Linked DNA regions of Homo sapiens: region 1 is linked to region 2. The links come from fine-mapping of genetic effects on gene expression. A gene starts in region 2. The other region holds a variant in brackets. All regions are shown on one strand. Distances are from middle to middle. Region 1 has its middle 6.9 kb from the start of CYSLTR2. Region 2 holds the start of LPAR6 (lysophosphatidic acid receptor 6).

Region 1 (10,063 bases), 230 kb after region 2:
CTGTTTTAATATAATGTGGAACTGAGACTGAGGAAGCCACAAATTAGAAACTTGCAAAGTGAGAGAGTTGGATATTTAGTTGGTAATTATCCTTTGTGCCCCTCTCCCTGCCAAAGTTTTCCTGAAATGTTTCCCAAACCATACAGTATTAGTCAGCGTTTTCTGGAGAAACCAAACCAAAAGGACACACGCGCACGCATACACACACACGCACACACACACATGCACATGGGGCCTGATCTGTTTAATTTAATAAATTGCTCATGTGGTGGGTGCTGGCAAGTTAAAAAACCATAGGGCAGGCTGGTAAGCTGGAAATCCCAGGAAGAGTTTGTGAAAGGAAATTAAATTTGGGGACCGCAAACTCATTTAGCCAAAGGGAAAAGTCAAGCTGGGAACTGGGTCATGCAAACCTGCCTCCACCTATTGGATACCAAATAAGATGTCTACAAGATGAAGAGCTACCCGCCTGCCCCATATTTTACCCACAAGGAAATTGCTAGTGAGCTGTTAAAACTTCACCATGGCAATGCAAATTGATAGCTTACAGGTGTAGTCACCCAGCCTGCCAGACACAGATACATATCTGATTGCTCCCCTACCCCATTTTGTCTGTGTTATCTTATGTAAAATGCAGATTTCCCCCCATTTTTCCTCTGCCCCTTTTGTTTATGTGAAAACTGTGTGCTTCTCAATATCCCCACCCTTTGCCATTTCCCCTTTAAATTTGGAGCCCTCAAAATCATCTTCAGAGAAAGGCATAGACCTGTCTCCCAGGCAATGTCCTTAACTTTGGCAAATAAATCTCCAAAAATGATTGAGACTTGTCTCATCATTTTCTTCGATTGACAAGTTGATGTTGTAGTCTTGAGTCCAAATTTTGCAGGCAACAGATTTGAAACTCAGGAAGGGTTTCCATGTTGAAGTCTTGAGAATTTTTTCTACTTTTGGGGAACCTCAGTCTTTGCTCTTAATCAAGGATTACGAAGTCTAATCTGCTTTACTCAATGTTCTTAAATATTAATCTCATCTTAAAAATACCTTCATAGCAACATCTACACTGGTGATTGACCAAACAGTTGGGCCTAGACAAAGTGACACATACAATTAACCATCACACCTGCCTATAAGATAATCAACATTATAGGAGTCTAAACTCATCAGCTTCCTCTGTGAAATTTTCATCTATCTAGAGTCCAAATTTTGTGTTCATGCCTTTTCTGAAGTACTAGACTTTAGGCTCCTTTCTGGTAGGCTCCATTTCTTTAAAGCAGTTTACATTGCCTTTATATCCATTGCAGTGCCTTACACCAGTCCCCAGGTGCCAGTAAGTGACAAGGGGATGAGGATAAAAATAAGAGCACAGGCTCCGGAGTCAGATATTCTTGAAATCAAAGTAATTTTAAGCAGTTTATTAAGTGTTCCAACTCTGTGTCCTCAAATATAAAATGAGAACAATCATATATATATTTTTTTAGGATTATAGATTTGTTGGAAGGAGAGGCTCTATTTATAATTCATTTTTTATCCTCCCCCAAAACAGCAGAATTTGCTGTGTGTTAGCAGGTTCTGTGCTAAGCACTTCATGCGCAGGAACTCACTCAGCCTTCAGAACAACCCCGCTGTGCACTCCACCACCATTTCATGGGGAGCAAAGGGGCTCAGAGCGTCTCTTAGTCCACTTGGGCTGCTGTAACAAAATACCATAGACTGGGTGGAACAGAAACAACAGAAATTTATTTCTCACAAATGTAGAGGCTAGAAGTCTGAAATCCTATGGGAGTTCTCTGGGGTCATTTTTATTAGAGCACTAATCCCATTCACGAGTGCTCTGCTCTCATAACCTGACCACCTCCCAAAGCCCCACCTCCTAATACTATCACCTTGTGGGTGAGGATTTCAACAGATGAATTATTGGGGGACACAAACATTCAGTGTACAGCAGAGAGGGTAAGTCATGTACCTGTGGACACAGAGCTGGAAATGATGACATAAATTAGAGCTCAGATTGGCCTGTGGCTCATGCCCATGTGGCCCTCTGCAGAATGCCTTGGCATTTTTTCCGTGGTTCCCTCTGCCACAAAGGCCCTCCCTTCACCTGGGGCACCTGCTTCTCTTCCAGAGTCAGTTCCTGCCCCACTGCCCCACAGAAGTGTTTTCTGATGTGCTCTTCCTTGGGAAGACCTGACCAGGGCAAGGCAAGACAGCGGTGCTAGTTGTGCTCTGGACCGAGAAAGGGGTAGGATGGAAATTCAGCTACTGTTCCTGGCAACTGGTGAGTCTTTGCCCCAGGCTATGGCTAACAATGAAAGGAAAACCTTATGGTAATCCTAACACCCAGAAGGGTCAGCCTTCACACAGAGACACTTGTAGGCAGTAGCTGGGCCCTGGGACTGGCCATTCCCTCCTCCACGCCCTGCAAGCACAAGTGCTCAGGAACGTTCACCTCCTGCCTCTCTCTACCACTAGTGATCCTCTGAAGTGCAGGAGCCACGTCTTAGGTGTTGTTGCTTACTTCTTGTCCAGGACAGGGACTGGCACACTTCTGCTTAGTGTTTGTTAGCAAATGGATAGAGGGAAGACTGAAGGAAAGAGGAAAATCAGGTGTATTTCTTAAAGTTGGCAAGGTGATTCAATTCCTTTCTTCACACAACAAATATTTATTGAGCACTTGCTATGTGGCAGTCACAGTTTAGACAATGGGGTTACTGATACTTAAGGTGTTCTGGTTCTGGCACACGAGAAGCTGATTTATTATTTTCCTACCATGTCATACATAGAGGAAAGCAACAGTCTTGTATCAAGCTGGTTCTTTAAAATACCCTACTAGGTTTCCTGAGGTTTCATGCTTCTAGGCCCCTGATTACTTAACACATTCAAAACAGAAGAATCTTTTTATGTGCACCAGGAGAAGAAATGGAAAAACACTGACATCCCTGGAAAGTGGGAAATCCAAATTTCAGAATTTCTTCTCCACTGCCACATGTTTCCCATTTGTTTGTTTTTCCAAAACACCCATTGCACCTCACCAGCATGGAGCTCAGGCTGGCCTCCAGGCAGGGCTCTTTTCCACAGCATCTGCCCCTCCCCACCAGAGCAGAAGGCAATGCTAACTGCACCTGGGACCATCATCCAGAGGAGCATCTCTGAGAAGCAAAGTGAATTGTCTGGTCTGAGCAGTTCCTAAGTGGATTAATGACTAATAACCCTTGGTTCCTAATGACCTGGATGAAATAATACAATTTCCTGGGCTCTGTGGAATTCTGGAGTCTCCAGCTATTAAAACCACTACAAAGCACTCTTAGATACTAAATGCATGGTACATTTCACGATGTTGTTTTCTCGGTTCATGAGCTTGTGCATATTTGATTGCACATGCTCACTTTAAGAGGCACTTACCGCCCCTATCTTCAGCTCTGTTAAATGGAGAAAAGCCAGATAAACTAAGGCATTAGTGGCGCCAAATTAACGTGAGCATCACGTAAATGCTCATCAATGCCAAGAGGAGCCCATAGTTTCTGCTAGTAAGTAGAAAGTCCCTAATATGAGGAAGATATATTTATAATGTCAAAGGGATCTATTGTTAGTATCCCTAGTATTGGCTAATGGTAGAAAGGGCGCATAGTTATTTAGCATCTTGGAAATGCAAGTTTCTCATCATTTAGGTATTTTCAAAATGGGACAATAACAAATGCAAAGGGTCATTGCAATGGCTACATGAGATCTGTGTGAGATGCCTAGCACAGAACTGGCACCTGGATGAATCCCAGGACCTGGCTGTTGGAGTATTTGGACATAGTGAACATGTGCTCCTCATAGAGCTAGAAGCTCACTAGAGTAACCCACCCTTCAGGTCACAGGGACCTGGGAATTCATTCTGAATATTTAAAGCAGGGAAGGTTTACTCAGGTGATGGAAGGGCTGAGAGACAAGCAGGGAACTGAGATAACACAGAGTTTAACACAGCAAGAAGCCATCACCATGCCTGGGCTGCAGAGATACAGGGAGGAGACAGGTTTCCCCAAGCCTGGGAGTCACACAACAGAAGCTGGGGCCCCACAGAACACACAGTTGCCATCAGAAATGCCACCTGCAGAACAGATGGGGAGTGATATCGTTAGGCTTTTTGTCCGCACTCAAATCTCATCTTGAATTATAATCATCATAATCCCCACGTCAAGGGAGAGACCAGGTGGAGGTAATTGAATCATGGGGATGGTTCCCCCATGCTGTTCTCATGATAATGAGTGAGTTTTCATGAGATCTGATGGTTTTATAAGGGGCTCTTTCCCTCACTTCTCTCTCCTGCAGCCTTGTGAAGAAGGTGTCTGCTTACCCTTCGCCTTCCACCATGATTGTAAGTTTCCTGAAACTTCCCCAATCATACGGAACTATAAGTTAGTTAAGCCTCTTTCCTTTATAAATTACCCAGTCTCAGGAAGTTCTTTATAGCAGTGTGAGAATGGACTAATACAGGGAGAAATGCTCTGGCTTTTTTCTCCTTTTTTTCCACCTTCCCACCTCCCACCAGTGCCAAATCCAGCCAGAAGCTGGGCTGATATGGGAGTCTGAGCTTTAGGGGTGAGCCCTCACCGCACCCTATAGAGAGTAGAGCAGGGTAGAGGTGAGGAAGGGAACTGAGCCCACCCAGTGGGCCCGCAAGCCTGGGCAGTAAAGGTACCAAATGAAATTATCTGGCTTGGAGGTCTTCATTTGGGGTGACATTTTGTTTCCAACCTATCTCCTCTCCTGCTGTCCTTGACCCCAACCTTCCTCATGCCTATTTTCCAAATTCTCTTGAGTCTTCTGCTCCAGCTGGGTCATCTCCTATCCACAGGTGGGAAAGGAGGAAAGACACCAGCCCCACTGCAGCTACCACCCGCACTGCTAGATGTCCGAGCATGTGCCTGCACTGAGCCACGCCTAGAGGGCAGCCAGGTGATGATGCTGCTCCTGCCTTGCATGTGCTCTGCCCAGTGCTCAGCAGACCTCCCTGGTAGGTGCTGTAGCTGTGCCACAGTGCTCTGGCCCTGAGCCTGGCCACCACA[T/C]GTGTTATCAGGGAGGACCCTCCCCTTGAGTCACCTACATTAGTGCTTAAAGCTCTAGCTTCAAACTCAGTCTCAACCCAGGGTAGGTGGAAAATAGAACTTTCTTTAGTATTTTTATAGCTCAGTTGCCATTTTTTTCAAGAAGTCCTTCTTCCCTGACCTGCCATGTGAAACTTACTGTTTGCAAACTCCCTCTTACATTCTATTAGTGAAACTAACCTAGATCCTAGATTAGGGAAAAGCTGCATGCATAAGGGGAAAAAATAACAAGAAGTGTAGTTTATTCTCCCCACTACGGCGCATCCTGTTGATGGAATATAGGAATATAATTCAATAATTAAAACATTCATGCCGATGTGGTAAAACGTTGTGTTGCAGTGTAAATGGGAAAAATGCAGGATGCAAATTTTTGTCAAATGAAGCAACAAATGAGCAAGCAACAGCTTAGAAAACTGTCTGGCAGAGAATGCACCAAAAATTTGTCTTTTGGGAGATGGTACTATGAATGATTTTCATGTGAAGAAATTAAGTTTACTCCAGAGATCCCTTGAGTTCTAGAACTGGTCTTATTTATCTTTGTATCTTTCTTCCTTCCTCATCCCCAGAGCCTTGTATACACTCAATATGCAAGAAGCCCTGGAAGTTCCCAAGGTGTGTTTCCAAGACCCTACACCAGCCTGGCTGAAACAGGACCAGATCATCTCTCAAATCTCCATCTCATGGTCTTGGTGGCCACCTGCTGCCTGAAGCTAGGGCTACAGAGGCGGGAGTGAAGAAGGACTCACCTGCCCAGACTGAAGCCACAGAATCCAGGGAGCCAGCCTCAAGGTCCAGTCAAGCAGTGCTCAGACTTACTGCTAGGATTTAGAAGAAAACAAAAGGGGATGATGAGGAATTGCAGATTTGAAACTAAGCTGGCGGGTTTAGGGTCTCTTCTGTACCATGGGTTTTGTGGAGGCTCTAATTCTGTGGTCTTTTTCCAGAATGCTATGTTCTTAGTCACTAATTTGCCTTATGTGACTTGACTAATTAGTACCCTCAGGATGGGAAAGGCCTTACATGAGCAGCAGGAAATTTTTGGGGTCTGAGAAAAGGTGGCTGAAAGAAAGGGAAGGATCTGATAGGGGAGTGAAGAGTGTTAACGTAACTTTGGCTCCCTTCTCCATGTTTATGCTGTCAGCAGAAAAACCAAACTCTGCACAACATTTCAAAGAGGTTTATTCTAGGCCAATATGAGTGACCACGGCCCAGGGAAAACACAAACCCAAGAGGCCATGAGAAAGGAGTCCCAAGGCAGTCGGACTGTAACTCTGTTTTAAGCATTTCAGGGCAGCAGAAACTACAGGCAAAGTTGTAAATTGATACATGGAGGTTTATACATTGGTTCAGCCCCAAGAGGTGGGATATCATGAATTGGGGGACTTACAGGTCATAGGTGGGATCAAAGATTCTTTAATTTGTAATTGGTTAAAGGAACAAAGCTCTGTGTAAAGTCAGCTTAAAGAAATGTTTACATGAAAGGAAGGAAGTTTGCTAGTCATCATGTGATGCTATGCCAGAGTCGGGTTATGAGAGCAAGATACAATATATTGGGTCAAAATGACATGTTTAGCCAGATTGATGGTCTGTAGGTATGACTCTCTCCAGGCCTTTTTGGAGAGAATTTTTAGCAAAGAGAAAGAGGTCAGAGTTCAGTCCTCAATGATCTCCACAAAGACTGCTCTGCCTGAAACTTGTGATATAAATCATGCCGTGGGACATGGGCCTGCTCCTCTCCAAGGGCCGTTGGCTGGGCCTCTTAGGGTTCAAACCAGAATCTCCTGATTCTCACTCTCATACGATATTATGCAAAGAAAAACTCCCTTTTGGAAAAACCCCCTTCTGGAATCCTTAATTTGGCAATCTTCCAATTTGCTCAACATACTAAAAAAAAATTAAAGAGGTAAGTGTGTATGTATGTGTATGTGGGGGGACGCCAGGGATGAGTGGGGAGAGGGTGTCATGTGGCCCACGCACTGCACAGTTCTCCGGCTACTTTCTCTCCCAACTCTGATTGGACTGGAGCGGACATTAATGCTCACTCCAGCCTCATCACCTCTCCAGAGAGCTGACACTGCTTGGGAAGCTAAATTGTTCTTTTTGAAGGGAGAATTACATATGAGAGACTGAAAATCGAAACAAACTAAAAAGGATGCAAGCTCACTATGAATTAGTTAAGTCTATTGCGTTATCTTATGGCAAGTTTATAACTTTCTCCCTGAATTTTGGGTTCCCTTGGTTGGAGAAGGGAAATGTAGATGTGTTCCCTAGGACTACCATAACAAAGTACTGCAAACTTGATGGCTTAAATTAAAGCAACAGAAATTCATTCTCTCACAGTTCTGGAGGGCAGAAGTCAGAAATCAAGATGCCAGCAGGGCTGCACTCCCTCTTCTGAAGGCTCTAGGGGGAGTCTTTCATTGATTTACCAGTTCTAGTGGCTCCAGGTGTTCCTTGGCTTATAGCTGCATCACTTTAATCATTTTACATGGCCTTCTCCCCTGTGTGAGCTTGTTGACACTCCTTTGTCGTCTCTCTTACAAGGATACATGTAATTGTATTTTGGGCTCACCTGGATAATGAAAAATAAACTCGTTGCCTCAAGATCCTTAATTAACCACCATTTGTGCCACATAAGGTCACATTTACAGAATCCAGGATTTGAATATGGGCATGTCTTTGGTGCCAATGTGTAGCCCACTACACTACGTAATTCTTTTCTCTGTCTTATCACAGAACAGGCTCTCTTACACATAAAGTTGGTTGCTTTCTAAATTCCATGAGGTTTCAAGTTTGTTTCCATTGTTCCCCTTTCTTTCTTTTTTTTTTTTTTGAGATGGAGTTTCGCTCTTGTTGCCCAGGCTGAGGAGCTCAACGGTATAATCTCAGCTCGCCGCAACTTTCACCTCCCAGGTTCAAACGATTCTCCTGCCTCAGCATCCCAAGTAGCTGGGATTACAGGCACCTGCCACCATGCCCAGCTAATTTTTGTATTTTTAGTAGAGATAGGGTTTCACCATGTTGGCCAGGCTGGTCTTGAACTCCTGACCTCGTCATCTGCCCACTTCGGCCTCCCAAAGTGCTGGGATTACAGGCGTGAGCCACTGCGCCCAGCCTGTTCTTCCACTTTCTTAATGACCTAAATAGAAACATGATTCACGCTGACTTCTTCCTTTGTATTTAACCTTGCACTATGAAAACAAACTACTGTCTCTGATGCCTTAGTAACTTAATAGTGCTTCTGATCTTTTGAAAATCACAGGTTTGTGCTTATAGGAATATATCCTCTAGACTCAAGCTTATGTCTCTAAAAGTCTAACTAAAGGCCTTGTGGCTGGTACATTACTGTAATCAGCAAGAAACTGGCCCTGATTCTCTTAAACTCACTTTGTTCAACTGAGAACAAACTTGGAAGTCTCCTACAAAACTGGAGTTGATTCTCATCTCTTGATTACTTCTGCAGGCCTTTGAAAGTTCCGGAGAAGTTCTCTGTGTGCCATATACATTAAACACGCTTCCATGTTTTCCTTTAAATCATCAAGAGCAGCACATAGGATAATGTGTTTATTCCTTTCTCTGCTCCCTAGGATTATCTTCTTTTTAAAGTCATCGACCCTTTCCCTATCTACTCTAAATGAATGATTTCTTGCTCCATCCTGACAAATCCGGTTAAAATGACATTGCATCTCTTTATATCATCTGTCCAAATTGTACAAAGAAAGAGTGTCTAATGGGCACTCTCCAGCAAATTTACTGCCTATGGAGTGCTTAGAGATCCCAGGCTGTCCTAAAAATAAAAGAAAGTCTTGAATAGGTTTCTCCTTTCTCTGAGGTTTACAGATTCAGAAGCAGGGAGTAGGGAGAAAGCATTTCCCTCATTATCTTTCTAATACTCTTGAAACATATTCTGCTCCTTGAAAACCTAATATTCAAAAGTTAGCTCTCGGAGTGTAGGATCGATTTTTTTTCACTGTTTATTTTATTTTAAAGTTTTTAATTTTTTTTATTTTTATTTTTATTTTTTATTTTTTGGAGACAGAGTCTCACTCTGTCACCCAGGCTGGAGTGCAGTGGCACGATCTCAGTTCACTGCAACCTGCGCCTCCCGGGTTCAAGCAATTCCCTGCCTTAGCCTCCCAAGTAGCTGGGATTACAGGTGCCTGTCACCACGCCAGGCTAATTTTTGTGTTTTTAGTAGAGACGGGGTTTCACCATCTTGGCCAGGCTGGTCTCGAACTCCTGACCTCGTGATCCACCCGCCTCAGCCCACCAAAGTGCTGGGATTAGGCATGAGCCTTTTTTTTTTTTTTCTGAGGCAGTCTTGCTCTGTCACCCAGGCTGGAGTGCAGTGGTGTGATCCCAGCTCACTGCAGCCACAACATCCCCAGCTCAAGCAATCCTTCCACTTTAGCTTCCTGAGTAGCTGAGACTATAGGCACATGCCACCATGTCCAGCTAATTTTTGTATTTTTTTTTTTAGAGATGGGGTCTCCCTGTGTCACTCAGACTGCTTTCAGTCTGTTCTGGACTCGAGATCTTCCTGCCTCAGCCTCCCAAAGTGCTAGGGTTATAGGGGTGAGCCACTCCATCCAGCCCACTTTATTCATTTTAATGAGATGAACATTAGTCAATTAATTGGGCTTTTTGGCTCACTGCAACCTCCACCTTCCGGGTTCAAATGATTTTCCTGCCTCAGCCTCCCAAGTAGCTGGGACTACTGGCGCGTGCCACCATGCCTGGCTAATTTTTGTATTTTTAGTAGAGACAGGGTTTCACCATATTGGCTAGGCTGGTCTCCAACTCCCGACCTCGTGATCTGCCCACTTTGGCCTCCCAAAGTGCTGGGATTACAGGCGTGAGGTCACTGCGCCTGGCCAATTGGGCTTTTATTGGAGAAGAATGAATATCTATAGTGACTGCTTGTAGAATGAAATGTTGTTTCAAGCTTTTTGCCCCCTAAAGATGAGAATGGTAAT
Region 2 (10,063 bases):
ATTTGAGAATTAGAGATTTTAGGAGTTATGTACATGCTGATCTCTGGAAAATATTGCTAAATAAGTAATGCTGTTGATCATTAAGTACTCTGGTCGGTTTAGATATTAATGTGTGTTCTACATTCTTAAGTTTGTTCATTAGTCCTTTTTAATTTGTAATTTATTTCTTAGAAGCCATGTTATAAATGGGTAATTCAGTTTTCAGGAAAGCCCCAAAAAGCTTTTTAAAAAGTTTGTTTTTGGAGTCTTTAAGATTTCATCCCTGCCTAAGCACTGTTTATAAAATTGTTTCTACACAAAAATTTATTCACAACTAAGAACATTTGTGACATCCAGAGTTGGACTGGCATTTAGGCACGAAAAAAGTTTAGGTGCTGGAAGGTAGTGATGCTTCTTCTTGGAAATAGTAATTTAATATATTGACAAAGGACAAAATACTTGGTTCATCAGGTGTCCAAAATTGTAGGACCAAAAAGCAATTGCTTCAGATTCTTGATAACTATGTACCATTCATGAACCAAATGTTTCTCGGATGGGAATATGAAGTTTGCTCCATTTTCTATTTTATATTTCTCAATTTAGTGACTAATTTCTTTAAATACCAATATCTATAATTAAGATTTCTATTTCCAATTTACTTTTCAGCATTTTGAATGTAGAATATTAAGGTTCATTGATAGCTCCTTAAGTAGTGTCTTCAGTTTAATTTTCTGTGAATATAATATATATAATACATATATTTTTATGCTTTTTAAAATAAACTAGGTACTTGATATTTTCTCAGTAAAGATGATTTCTAAGTTCAGAAATTATTAGGATGCTGGAAAGCCATTTTTCCACACCTGAAAAATTTTCTCAGCTTACTGTGTTCCTTTGAAGGGAGTTAATGTGGGAAGGAAGATTAGTCAAATCATCTACCGTTTTATGAAAATGTTAATAACAGTGGGCACAGTTTTTATAGGGGGGCTTAGTGCTATCATTTTCAGGTAATCAAAAGTAAAATCATCAGAGTTCTAATATTAATATAGGTTTTTCTGAATAAAGGGGGAAGGGAAGAGAAAACCCTCAGAATATATGACTTACCACAAAGTACAACACTAGCAAAGGAAAATAAATTTTGTTCTGGTACACTTTTTTTCCATAGTTCTAGATGAGAAAACCATGTTTGTTATCTGTTATGTATTGCTTTATGAAGAATCTTACAAAACTTTTGATTCATTTATCTTCCTGTTGACAAGAGACACCAAAAAGTTTCTTTATGAACATAGTAATAACAACTATTTAATGACTGTTTTATTTGCATTTTAAAGTTATATTCATGTTTTATGATCTTGCCTTAAGTTGAGATCTTTAAGCTGAGGAGAGTTCTGAGAAATCTCAAAGTTATACAATTCTCCACCCCTTTCCCCCAGATCAGTAGATTGGTAGTTGCTTCTCAACTCAGTATGTTTAAGAAAGAGTGTATTTTTATTTACTGAAGTGTAATATCAAATAAAGGAATTTCAGGTCAATGGAAGAAAACACATTTATATTATGTATATATTTCTCTTGGGATATAAAGGACCATGGTTAGTATCTTCACTAGTTTTTTGGGTTTTTTTTCTTTTCTCTTTTTTTTTTTTTTTTGAGATAGGATCTTGCTCTGTTGTCCATGCTGGAGTACAGTGGTGTGATCATATCTCACTCTAACTTGGAACTCCTGGGCTGAAGGCATTAAAGATGTATTTTGCTTTAGGTTTATCTAAAGGAAACCATGGATCCCTAAAGAAAACCCCCCACTGTTATTTTATTGAAAATGGGTTTACCTGTCTAGCAAATGATTGTGATTTTTCTGAAATCATTACACCTCAAACCCAGAGAACAGCAAAAATCAAATTTATGTCTTAAAAGAGTTTTTTGTCCAAGTTGTATTGAGGACTTGAAAGATTAAGACAGTAGAAATCAGATAGGTTGGATGCTGAATTTAATTACATGTCCTTTTCCTTAAATAGAAGGCATTCTTTTTTAGTTAACTTTGGAGAACTGCTTGATTTTTTTTTTTTTTTTTTTTTTTTTTTTTGAGATGGAGTCTCGCTCTGTCGCCCGGCTGGAGTGCAGTGGCGAGATCTTGGCTCACTGCAACCTCTGACTCCTGGGTTCAAGCGATTCTCCTGCCTCTGCCTCCCGAGTAGCTGGGACTACAGGCATGTGCCACCACACCCAGCTAATTTTTGTATTTTTAGTAGAGACGGGGTTTCACCATGTTGGCCAGGAGGGTCTTGATCTCTTGACCTTATGATCCACCCGCCTCAGCCACCCAAAGTGCTAGGATTACAGGTGTGAACCACCGTGCCCGGCCTGAATTTTTTTAAAAAAGGAATATGTTGGATAATAAAAAAGTTTTAGTGTACTTGGTACTTTTTTTCTAAAGTATACCTCAGAGCCAGACCTATTTTATGTTTAGTGAAATGAAAATATAGTTTTGTTTAGTTATTTGGCCTTGTAGTTTTGTTACTTTATAATGTAAGGAACTGTGTCCTTAATTAATCATTTTGACGTACAATAACATCTTGCCTACTTGAAATAATGTTTTGAACTTCCCAATATTTGGCTTAAAATGGCCAGAAGAGTGAAGGAAAAGAAAATATTTACAGTCATGCATCACGTAATAGCATTTTGGTCAATGACCGCATAAACGATGGTGGTCTCATAAGATTATCATACTATATTTTTACTGTACCTTTTCTGTGTTGAGATGTATTTAGATACACAAGTACCATTATTTTACAGTTGCCTACAGTATTCTTTGCAGTAGCATGCTGTATAGGTTTGTAGCCTAGAAGCAGTAGGGTGTACCATATAAGCCTAGGTGTGTAATAGTGTATACCTTCTAGAGTTGTGTAAGTACACACTGTGATGTTTGCACGACATAATTACCTAAGCAAGCATCATAAGCAACACGTGACAGTATATTACTTTCTAAATGCCAAGTACTATATTTCACTATCTCTGATGTTTCTCCGACCTAACATACTTAAAACATAAGTTCTTGACTGTGATGTAAGTGCACCTTTAAAATGTACCTCTGGTAGTATTTTATTTTTTTGCTAAGTAAAAACTTAGCAAAATGACATTTTATTAGTTTTCTCCCTCTCAATTTTTGTGGCATATATCATTTTGAAATTGGGTGCATTATATACAGAAAATCAAAATAGTAACTTCAAAGCATACCATATAGATAGCATCTGCTTTCTACAAATTGCCTACACAGACCAAACTCCCAAAATGTTATCAATGTGTTACTGCTCAAGATCTTCCAACAATGTTAATATGTCATCATTTCTACAGAAGACTACGTTTTTAGTTATACATATATTTTAAAATACTCCCAAAACATTTATTTCAAATTACTCTTCTTTCTCATTTGTTAATCATAGTTTAAGAAATATGATTAGTAGTTTTAATTCAAAATAAAAATGGTATGTTGAATAAAATATTACATAAACATAAATTAGTATAAAATAATTTAGTAAATTAAATCATTTAATATAAAAAGGAATTCAAAGACATTACAGATTGGCACCACATAATTTAAGTCAGTCACTTTTAGACACTAAATAACTTTAAGAGATTTTTTTTAATGAAGGAACAAATCAAAATGGCTCAGAAAAATCAGATGGAGTGGATACACAAATAAAATACATGTTAATGCTTAACACATTGAATACAAATTTTCTTTATACTAAAGACTTTAAAATGTCCATGTGTTAATTTCTTTTGGAGGTGGAAAAATAGTTTGTCCAAAAAGACACTTTTCACAGTTGAAGGAACTTGAAAGTTCTGTCCCAGTGAGTCCTAATGGTTTTATTTCAGGCAGCAGATTCATTGTCAAATATCTTACTTTTTAAGGTCTGTAGGTTATGCTGAATAAAATTCTCTGCACCATGAACTTCAGAGAATCTGAAGTCACTTCTCCTGACAGACCAGTTTTTCATTTTTATTGAATTCTGAATTGTGTCCGATGTAAAGTAGTAAACTATAGGGTCAAAACAACAGTTGGAAACAGCAATACAGAGAGTGATTGGGTACATTGTCCTTACTGCTGCCACTACTGAGCAATTAACAAATGTTTGTGTTCTCACAAGAGAATATAAAATAAGATTGATATTGTAAGGAACAAAACAGAAACAGAATATGATCAAATGTACAAAAATCATTTTTAAAACCTTAGTTTTGTTTATTTTGCTTCTACTTAATGTAACAGGTTTGGTTAAAGTTTTTAGCACCATACTAGAACAAGTTACATTTAAAATTAGAGGAATAAAAAATCCCACTATTTCGATGAAAATTACAATCCTTGAGAGATATGTTTTCCATGTGGCTTCTGGAAAATTTTCAAAGCAGGCTTCTGAGGCATTGTTACCCTGAGAGTGGGTAGACTGAACAAAAACGGCGGGTGCACTTCCTCCGATCACAGTTAACCACACGCCAGTGCAAACAATCTTTGCATTTCTTTTGGTTCTTAGAGTCTTTGACTTAAATGGGTAGACAATTGCCAGAAATCGATCTACACTAATACAGGTTAAGAACAGAATGCTTCCGTACATGTTGGTATAAAACAGCATCACAGAAATCTTACAAAGTAAATCTCCAAATGGCCAATTCCGTGTTGTGAAGTAAAAAATCCTGAAGGGTAAAGTAAAAACAAAAAGCAAGTCTGACATTGCCAAGTTAATCATGTAAGTTGTAGTTTCATTTCGGACTTTGAGGACGCAGATGAAAATGTATATGGCAACACAATTGGATATTAACCCAAGCACAAACACCATGCTGAACATGCACCCATACAAAGTGTACTTAAAGGAGTCATTATAGAAGCAGTGGGAGCTGTTAACGCTTACCATCGTAAAGGCACGTCCAATTTTCAGTTTGGAAGCACTTTCATCAGCTGCAGTCTCCTTTGGGATTCAGATTATAACCTCTATAACCTCCAATTTATTTGCAAATTATCTGGATCTTTGGATGGTTTTATAAATATTTCCTTTTTCTCAGAAATACCCAAAAGAAACATGAAATTTGTTGCTGTAAAATTTCCGCTGGGTTCTTCAACAGGAAAATATTTTCATTTGTTAGTCTTTAGAAAATCCATGAATTCCAAGGCTCAGTTAACTGACGAGCAACCTTTAAAAAATACAGTCAACGAGTCCAACCCATAGGATTATAAATTTAAAGAAAAGCTGTGATCTGTGACCAGAATGAAACCACTTGTCTTCTAAACTTGTATTTCAGTAGTCAAGATGAATACTCCAAAGTTAATGTTTCTTTATGCCTCAGAATGTTAAGCTTAAGTTATCAATCTTATTTTCTTTTCAGTGCAGAGTTTCAGAGACTTAAACATTCCCAATTTGTCCCATTTTACTTCTTGCTTCTTTTAAATGAAGTTTTCCTTTTTTGTTTTCCTGCAGTGGATCCCAGATTGTGGGTAAGCAGAAGAGTCTTTTAAAGATTCCGAAATAAACTCCCAAGCTTGTTAGCTCTTGTTGAATTGAGGCCTTTTCCTCAGTTGCCAGTTGTATCTTGAGGTCGCTTTCTCTGAAGTGAAAAAGAAAGGCTTCCTAGATTTGTAATATGACATCACAGGAAGAAGAGGCTGGGTTTGGACAAAGAAACTTTCAGCCCAGTTTGTTTGCACTTCCTTTAATCTGATAATGTGTCTGCTGGGAATATACCTAGGAGGCTTGCAAATGGTCACTGGCTGTTGAACTGCGTGGTCTGCTCATTAACTCTTTTTATGTGGAAATGCCTTCTGCGGTGCTGGCAACCTCTCAGAGTTGTTTTGATTTGTTTCAGTAGTAATAATTGAAAGAAAAAAATCACTATTCAGCCTGTTCTCTTATTCGATTGTTTTCGTGTTTGGGATATGACAATTTAGAAAAGAAAATGTGTATGGGTGTGTATTTATAAATTGAAATTGTTAGTGATATCTTAACATAGCATTTCAAAGAACTGTTTAATGACTATGAAACAGGGGCCTTTAACCTTTAAGGTATAACAAGCATTTGACTCTTGGTTTCTGAAAAATACTCAATATTTAATTGTTATCATTATGAGTAGCTCTTATCCTGGGTCTCATTAGTTTTTGATAAGCAATTTTCTAACATTCTTTCCTCTTTCCTATGCAGTTGTATTAATATTTTAGAGCTGTTTAAATTTTTAAATTACTCATTTCTCCAAAAGAACAAACTCAAGAATGTTTATCTTTGGTGTGGTGTTAATTTTACTTTCTAAGCACAAAATGAAATTGCATCTTTTTAAGCAAAATTTTTTTAACCTTAAATTGATTGAAATAAGGTTTAGAGAATAAAAATCCTACTACTTGGCAAAATTTTAGGTTCATAGTCTTATCTTCCTTCTTCCTCCCAGCTCTTCCCTTAACCCCTTAATATGACATTAACTATATATTGAAATATATTTCAGATTTTGTCTCCATCTAAAAGTTTCTATGAATGGTTTATATGTTTATATTTAAAGTATACTCATATTTTGGGCCAGGTGCAGTGGCTCACGCCTATAATCCCAGCACTTTGGAAGGCCGAGGCAGGTGGATCACCTGAGATCAGGAGTTTGAGAGCAGCCTGGCCAAAATGGCGAAACCCCATCTCTACCAAAAATACAAAACTAGCCTAGGGCAATAGTGCGTGCCTGTAGTCCCAGCTACCCAGGAGACTGAGGCAGGAGAATCGCTTGAACCTGGGAGGCAGATGTTGCAGTGAACCAAGATCAAGCCACTGCACTCCAGCCTGGGCGACAGCGAGACTATCTCAAAAAAAAAAAAAAAAAGTATACTTATATTTTAAAGACTCCAAAATCAGAAGAAGAAAGTGTGTGTAAGGTGAGGGTACTTAAATGTAGGTGTTATTTCCTCAAAGATTGAGGATATCACAACCTCTATGGCACATGTTTTTCTTGTTTTAAATATCATTTTCTTCAGAAAAGGCTAGATCTAGTTATGCCTTACTGTTATTATTTTTTTAATTTGGTCTAGTTTAAGCTGAAACTCTTCCTCTTGGGTATTAAGTAATTTAAGAACAATTTATTTTTTTCTCATAAATTACTTAGCTAGCTTAAAAATAACTTATTACAGTAAAATGTTTTGTGTTGTTTTGCACCATTCTTTCACACTCAGCAATTTTTGTCATTTGTTGATGAACTATAATCTATTTCTACTGTCTGGACTAGAAAATTCATCTATTATCAAATGACAAAAAAAGATGAGTATTACTTATAACCAATACTTAAAATTTTGAAGGGTTGAATATCTTTTATATCACATTTGGTATAGAAAAGATGTATGTGTGTGTTCTTATTAGAAGGCTGGTAGAAGCTGAGTGAGCATTAATGAAAAAAGGAGTGGTTAATAAGCTTGTATTCTCATTGGAAAAAATTTTCTGTTAGTAGTTATGTCTTACTGTTATTTTTTTTTTATTTGGTTCAGTATGTTTTAAAAAAACAAAATCTTAGTAATCTTCTTTCAAATTGATAGTCTCCTCTTTAGTCATCTTTAATTAATGAAATATATGCAGTTGTATATGCTGATCTCATCCTACTTTTACTTTCATTTTGAATATGGCGGCATTTTCTCATTCAAATAATTAAAATTTATTAATTCTACTTGGAATATTTTTCTACATATTGTCATTACTCACTTGACTTGTTATTCACTTAAGTCATTCATCTATAGTTTTTTCTTTTCTTTTCTTTTTCTTTTTCTTTCTTTCTTTTTTTTTTCTCACTCTGCCGCCCAGGCTGGAGTGCAGTGGTGCGATCTTGTCTTACTGCAACCTCTGCCTCCCAGGTTCCAGCAATTTTCCCACCTCAGCCTCCCGAGTAGCTGGGATTATGGGCACCCGCCACCACACCCAGCTAATTTTTGTATTTTTAGTAGAGATAGGGTTTTACCATGTGGCCAGGCTGGTCTTGAACTCCTGACCTCAAGTCATCCACCCACTTCAGCCTCCCCAAGTGCTGGGATTCCATGTGTGAGCCACCGTGCCCGGCCTGTTCATTTATAGTTTTTTAATGTTTGAGTTACTGGGGCTTAAAAATGGATAGATCACTATTTGTTGAATTAGGCTTTTCATTATTATCAGTATCATAGTAAATGTTTGTATAATTCTTACCACAATTCTTGGTTCTTTGTAGATGATTCTCACATGTTTGCTGATGAATGAATCATAAACTTGAATTTTGTTGCCAGTTGTTTCTACTGAGGAAGAGCCATAGCAGAGGGACTGTTTGAACAGGAAGAAGATAATTGAATACTGCATTTTTTCCAGATATTAAATTTGGCCTCTAATTAAGGAACCAAAGGGGAATTTAGAAACTTTGAAAAATTCTTAGGTTAGAATTGGAAAAATACAGAGTAACTACTTGCAAAGGGAGGTAATGAATCCATATAATCAATTATATTTAATAGATACTTTTGTATTTGATAAACTCAGGCAAACTGTTATTTTAATGTGAGATCTCTACACTTCTGGAACTTAACTCTGAGAATCAACTTATTTCTTATATGGATTTTTTGGGGGGAGCGAAAATTAAACAGAGCCAGATAGATGTTAAAATGGTGAACACAGGAACAGCTGGAGTCTGCAGCTCCCAGCGAAATCAACGCAGAAGGTGGGTGATTTCTCTATTTCCAACTGAGGTACCCAGCTCATCTCATTGAGACTGGTCAGACAGGGGGTGCAGCCCATGGAAGGCGAGCCAAAGCAGGGTGGGGCATCGCCTTACACGGGAAGTGCAAGGGGCCAGGGAACTTCCTCCCCTAGCTAAGGGAAGCCATGAGGGAATGTGCCACGAGGAACGATGCATTCCGGCCCAGACTCTATGCCTTTTCCGTGATCTTCACAACCCTTAGACCAGGCAATTCCCTCGGGTGCCTACACCACCCAGGCCCTGGGTTTCAAGCACAAAACTGGGCAGCCGTTTGGGCAGACACCGAGCTAGCTGCAGGATTTTTTCTTTTTCGTACTCCAGTGGCACCTGAAACACCAGTGAGACAGAACTGTTAACTCCCCTGGAACAGGGGCTGAAGCCAGGGAGCCAAGTGGTCTAGCTCAGTGGATCCCACCCCCACAGAGCCCAGCAAGCTAAGATCCACTGGCTTGAAACTCTTACTGCCAGCACAGGAGTCTGAAGTCGACCTGGGATGCTGGAGCTTGGTGGGAGGAGGGGCTTCTGCCATTACTGAGGCTTGAGTAGGTGGTTTTCACCTCACAGTGTAAGCAAAGCCACCGGGAAGTTTGAACTGGGTGGAGCCCACTGTAGCCCAACTGCTTCTCTAGAGTCCTCCTCTCTGGGCAGGGCATCTCTGAAAAAAAGGCAGCAGCCCCAGTCAGGGGCTTATAGATAAAACTGCCATCTCCCTGGGACAGAGCACCTGGGGGAAGGGTGCTATGGGTGGCTATTGGTGCAGCTTCAGCAGACTTAAACGTTCCTGCCTGCTGGCTCTGAAGAGAGCAGCAGATCTCCCAGGACATTGCTCGAGCTCTGCTAAGGGACAGACTGCCTCCTCAAGTGGGTCTCTGACCCCCATGTCTCCTGACTGGGAAACACCTCCCAGCAGGAATCGACAGACAACTCACACAGGAGAGCTCCAGCTGCCGTCTGGTGGGTGCCCCTCTGGGACAAAGCTTCCAGAGGAAGGAACAGGCAGCAATCTTTGTTGTTCTGCAACCTCTGCTGGTGATATCCAGACAAACAGGGTCTGGAGTGGACCTCCAGCAAATTCCAGCAGACCTGCAGCAGAGGGGCCTGACTGTTAGAAGGAGAACTAACAAACAGAAATGAATAGCATCAATATCAACAAAAAGGACTTCCACACAGAAACCCCATTTGAAGGTCACCAACATCGAAGACCAAAGGTAGATAAATCCATGAAGATGAGGAAAAACCAGCGCAAAAAGGCTGACAATTCCAAAAACCAGAATGCCTTTTCTCTTCCAAAGAATCACAACTCCTCGCCAGCAAGGGAACAAAACTGGACAGAGAATAATAAACTCCTCCAAGCCAAAGGACCATG

Evidence for each region. PIP is the estimated chance that this variant, and not a neighbour inherited with it, causes the effect.
Region 1: its variant is fine-mapped to the expression of LPAR6 in whole blood (INTERVAL, PIP above 0.99).

What each region holds. Positions count from the first base shown.
Region 1 is chr13:48,642,042-48,652,104 of GRCh38, forward strand. No RefSeq gene overlaps it. Among named protein-coding and RNA genes, the nearest start is that of CYSLTR2, 6.9 kb to the right of the region's middle. The variant T/C (reference allele first, on the strand shown) is at 5,049.
Region 2 is chr13:48,407,541-48,417,603 of GRCh38, forward strand. LPAR6 (lysophosphatidic acid receptor 6) reads right to left here and starts at 5,573. Exons shown (of 1, transcript NM_001162498.3): 1 at 3,598-5,573. The coding sequence starts at 4,883. The coding sequence ends at 3,849. All of the region lies in intron 17 of RB1 (RB transcriptional corepressor 1), which reads left to right. RefSeq lists an enhancer at 4,057-4,558.